2 separate regions of the Homo sapiens genome follow, and region 1 is linked to region 2. Evidence: fine-mapped expression QTL. A gene starts in region 2. The other region holds a variant in brackets. All regions are shown on one strand. Distances are from middle to middle. Region 1 overlaps GYS2 (glycogen synthase 2). Region 2 holds the start of SPX (spexin hormone).

The links.
Region 1: its variant is fine-mapped to the expression of SPX in lung (TOPMed, PIP 0.91).

The regions. Positions count from the first base shown.
Region 1 is chr12:21,558,690-21,561,189 of GRCh38, forward strand. It overlaps GYS2 (glycogen synthase 2), which reads right to left. Exons shown (of 16, transcript NM_021957.4): 8 at 1,697-1,803; 9 at 962-1,021; 10 at 402-480. Among named protein-coding and RNA genes, the nearest start is that of SPX, 34 kb to the left of the region's middle. RefSeq lists an enhancer at 1-434. The variant A/G (reference allele first, on the strand shown) is at 1,263.
Region 2 is chr12:21,524,614-21,527,659 of GRCh38, forward strand. SPX (spexin hormone) reads left to right here and starts at 1,683. Exons shown (of 6, transcript NM_030572.4): 1 at 1,683-1,865; 2 at 2,273-2,353; 3 at 2,522-2,579. The coding sequence starts at 1,860.

The DNA.
Region 1 (2,500 bases), 34 kb after region 2:
TTCTGATGCAAGCCTGACACATTTGTTTTATCTCCTTTGTAATAATTCCACTCGACTAAGAAATATTCTTTTCTCTAATGTGACTCAAATTCTATGTTTTGGAAGTATTTAGGACTTTTTTGTAGTTACTAAACTATACATAATTTTTATATTGAATATATTAATTCAAAAATAATTTTGTAAGCAAGTGGAAGGACAAGTTTCATGAGATGTTTTAAAGGAGCTCTTAAAACCACTAATGAAAAAATGTCCAAAGTAATCATTTAAGTGACTATGTAAGAATGTCTTTTCTAGCCTCAGGTCTGAAAATGTTCCAAATTAGCACATTCCAATAAATTAAAATACTGATTAGATAGAATTTAATAACTATGGGACATAGTGGGTGCTTTTTTCCTTATTACCTGAGTTGAAAAGATGGCTCTTTTCATAATTGTTAGATCATCTCGATCTAAAATATCGTTCAGGTCAGGAATTTCTCCTCTGCAGGGAAAAAATGTTAATAACAAAAATAAAAACAGCTGGCACTAATTCAGTGATTCCTAAGCATCAGATTATATATTATATATTTCATGTATTTTAATAAATAATGTTGATTATTCTATTAAGTAAATGTGTTCACATAGACTTAATATTTAAGTACATATTTAATACACATTGTCAATATATATTTTGAATTAAAATCTCATGAAGTCTCTCTCAGCTTCAGACTGACATATCAACCCTTAATGAGTTCATCATTGAATTAGAACTTGCCTGCATATAAATGTATTCTTATTTGTACAGCTATTTACAAGTTTTGTCAAATGAAGGGTAAAATACTGTTCACATGACATAACACATTTTCAAAGGTTATTAATTCCTTGATATTTGGAACAAAATTAATAAGTTATGATGTCTAAATTGTTAAATTTGAATAGTGAAACCTTAAGTGATTGAAGTAGAAAGCATTTCAAGCACCTACCTTAATAATGCATCATAGAGTTTTTTTCCAAACTTTTCCTTCACAGAATGTGCAACATCCCTGTTTGAAACAGAAAGATTTATCATTTAAACAGTATGACAATGTTTAATCTTTATTTGTCACGATAATGCTATTGTTTTGTTGACATTCTTTGAAATTACATTCTTTGAAATTACAGGTATCTTTTTTATAGTCTCTTCTATTATTTTACTACTTGCCAATTCAGCTTAAGTTGACATCTCCAGAGCTGAGGCAACAGAACACCATGGCCAGCACAAAGAGCTTAAAATTTTTTTGCTTC[A/G]TGATGATTGGAACAGGATAGAGAGCAGAGAGGGGGAGTAGATGAAGGTATAGGTGTAACAAGACGGGAATTCGTTGATCATTGTTGAATCTGAACTATGAGTATACAGGGAGTCATATTACTAAGCTTTTTACTTGACATGTTCTTAGAATTTCACAATAGAAAGTTAAAAAATGTTTGACTCATCTTTAAAGATTTCTACAGGGCCTTGTTCCTTCAATGGTAGCTCATTCCAAAATTTGTATAACACCTATAATGTTATAACCATTACGATAACCTAAAATAGTAGCACGATGAAAAGAGAGTCAAGTATTATTTGTCTGTAATAATCTTAAGGAAAAAACAAAGTTCAAGGCGATACATGAGATGTCATTCACTTAAAAGAAATCTTTTCACATTTATTGCTAGAGAACATTCACAGGTTGTGAGATTACCACAGCTGTTTTCGCACTGCTTGTCCTTTCAGGGTTTCCACGTTGAAATTATTTGTCTTGGCAGGCATAATGAAAAACACCATCACTGTGATGTCACTTTTATGCATCTGATGAGGAATTAGAAAACACAGAGTCAACTATCAAAGATTTTTAAAAAGTATGATAGATGGAACTTAAACATTGAAAAGTAGAGTTTTAAAATATCAGTAGATAAAAGGTATAGTTATTTATGTTTCACAGAGAGATTATATTCACCTTCCTGAGACTTTTTCAGAAATTTTAATTAAAATCAAAATAAATTTTAAATTTTCAGTCTGTACTTGCCAATAAACAAATTGACTTTCAATCAGTATTTGTCAGTTAACAATTTGAAAATTCAAACAAAATATTTTCGTGCCTTTGACCATCTAGAATAGATAACAATTGCTATTGATGACACTGTGCTTTTCTGTGGTTAAAAAAATAGCATGAATGAGAGCTAATATTACAAGACCAAAATTAGTTCTTTAAAATTTCAGATTGGAAGTTTAATGAAGATTTAAGCTTTGGTAAAAGCTAAAATAATATTTCAATTTTTTTGCTTATTCATGTTGATTGATGACAGATAGATTATTTTTACTTTTCCGCTAAATGTCTTGATTCTCATGATGTTGTATTTTGGTTTTTAGCCCTAAAGCAAAGAAACAAGCACATGACGAGCACTTTTGGGATAGCAGACACTGTGCTGGGTGCTTTAAATATACTACTAATAATCATGTACAATAGGCATTTCTCTCCTCATTTTATTAATGTCAAAAGAAAGGA
Region 2 (3,046 bases):
CTTTAGCCCTATTCACTCCCTAAGTGTTGTGTTTAATCTCATCCCTTTACTGGTTGTAAAATTCTTAGAATTCTTAAAATTCTTAAAGCTAATCATTTCTGCCCCCCACCAAAAAGAAAATCTGTAGGCTGGTGACCTCTTGGCTGACCTCTATCAAGTTTTGCATTTCTAACCTTCTATTTTGTACTTGTACTTGGATATTTTTAATATACATTTTAATTTTAATATGCCTATATGGCAAGTGTTAATTTCCCTCTCATAACTTGCTTCTTAAGAAGTTTCTCTAATTTCAGTAAATTACTTCATAATTTACCCACAGTTTTATCCATAAACCTAAGAATCATCCTTGATTTATTTTTCTCACACTTTCATATCCCTTTTATATACAAGTTCTATATTTTCTACCTCCACAACATGTATTCCAAATTCATTTACAGCTCTTCTTTCCCTGTGTGTACCATCCCAGTGTAAGCCATCATCATCTATTGCTTATAATCGTATTTCCACATCAACTGGCCCATTTCTTCTTCTCCAATCTCATTTCAAAGCACCTCCCCCGTTCACCCACACAACGCTGCCTCCATTGGCCTCTTTCCTAGTCCCCAAGCAAGTCATGCTCTTTGCTGTCCACAGATTTTGCTTTTCTTTCTTCTATTGAGAATGCCTGGAATACTAATTCCTGCCCAGCTTCTCCCATTACTTCACCTTATCCTTCAAGACTACCCTCTGTTTTTAACCTTCCCTAAAGTAGCCCACCACTTATCCTATCACATCACCTTGCTTACTTTTACTTAACAATTTAAAACATTCTGTAGTTACAGTAGTCCCTGCTTATCCACGGTTTCACTTTCCATGGTTTCAGTTACCCATGGTCAACTACAGTCTGAAAATATTAAATGGGAAATTCCAGAATTAATAAGTTTAAATTGTGAGCTTTAAATCTGAGTAGGGTGTTGAAATCTCTCACTGTCCAGCTCCAGCCCACCCAAGACATGAACCATCTTTTTGTCCAGCATGTCCATATGTAAACACCACTCTCCCATTAATCAGTTAGTAACCATCTTGGTGAACAGATAAAAAAAAATAGTATAATAAGGCATATACGTATCAGTGGTTTCAGGCATCCACTGTGGGTCTTGAAACATGCTCCTCCACCCCACACACACCTACGATTAAGGGGTAACTACTGTGTCTTATTTATCTATTCATCAGTTTACTGTGTACCTTAACTAGTAGGTAACTTAGATCAAAGCAGAGACCATGTCTTTTCAGTGCATGGCTGTGTCCCTTGAAATACAAGGATTGTGTGTCTCATAGGCACTCAATAAATATTTGCTAAACAACAGAATGAATTGATAATTAAGTGAATGACTGATGTCAAATTCCATTGAGATTCCCAAACCTTTTCATACATCTTTAGCCATCAGTGATAGACTGATGGCTAGTTACCCAAGAAAAGTTTTCTGATTTATTCTTTTACTTTTGATTCTGCCTTGGACTATTGATTGTTTTCATTAATAATAATAATAACATGTTACTTTGGGCAGCTAGTAGGAAAAGCAAGGCCAATGATGCTGACACATTCTGAAGGCCTCCTGGGTGATGCAATCAGTATTTAAACAAATAATTTCTGCCCATCAATCATTCCTCTACTTCCTGCAATGAAGCTCCCTGGAGGAGTCATCAGATTCTCAATCTTGCTTGAAGACTGACAAGATGTCCCTGTGGACTCCCAAACTCTACTCCAGATGGGGAGGTGCCCTTAACACCAAGATTTTAAAAGCTCCAATTTCAGAGCAAGAGTCGAAAACTCACAGATAAAGTTATAGTTATTTCAGGGTTCTGAAAAGACGCAGAACATGAAGGTAAGTAAAGGCTTTATTAACTTGAGACTTCTTAGCTATTTTTTAAAACGTTTTATAGCATTTTACCTATTTCATGTTTAATAAGGATTTTAGAGTTTAAAGGATATTTGAACGATACGCCTTTAGAATAACAGAATCATTTGATTTTACTAAGAAAAAAATTCACGTATTTACTTATTCTTCATTTGGGTGAAGTAATACAAATAATATGTTTCTAAATACGTTTTTTCAAGTGGACTCTTTGTGAATTAACTAGAAGGTAGAAGGGAAACACCTCCAGAAAACTGAGTATTAAAACAGAATATTGCGAGAAGTAAGGGGGTTTATAATTGTCCAGGCGTCAAGGAAGGAAGCAGAAGATCCTATTGGCACAGAAATGACCCTTTCTGGTTGATCGCTTCATATAGGGACTCAGAAGTCTGGCAGCAACAACCTTGGCTCTTTTCCTGGTGTTTGTTTTCCTGGGAAACTCCAGCTGCGCTCCGCAGGTAATCAAATGCAAAATAAAAAATTTTAAAACAATGCGCACTGTGTGTCCACTCTGCTCTTTCTTTCTTCCTTCTTGTTTTATTCTCTTCTTTTTCCTTTATTTTGCTGTAATAGAGGACTGAGCTGCAATGTTTTATTAACTGCTCTTCCCTTCCCCCGGGCTATAGAGACTGTTGGAGAGAAGGAACTGGACTCCTCAAGCTATGCTCTACCTGAAAGGGGCACGTAAGTTCCAAATATTTCGCTCTTCCTACAATAATGGAAGACCCCTAGGAGTCAGGAACAGATAGATGGAGAGTTATGGAGAGAGAATAATGTCGAGTTTATTCCCTTAAATCATCGAGGCCATCAAAGAGACCGGTAGGTGAGGGAGGGGTGGGAGAGGGGAAGAGTCCCTGATTATTGGAAATCCTCCATCCTTATTAGAAATTCTCCATCCAAAACTGGAGGGTTGCTTCTCTTGGTCCAAATGGGGACTCGGGTTGCCTGGGAAATATCTCAGTAACCCGACCTCCGCTCCAAAGCGCCCTTGCGGCGTCCGGTCAGGCGCGGGGCTTTCCTCCAGAGCTCCAGGGCCCCTGGCTCAGCCCGGGGTTGCGCTGGGAGCGCTGGAAACTCGGCAGCCCCGCGCGACCCTATCCTGGAGCAACCTGCCCCCTCCCCACGCCCGGGGACTGCGCTGTGCCGGGAGG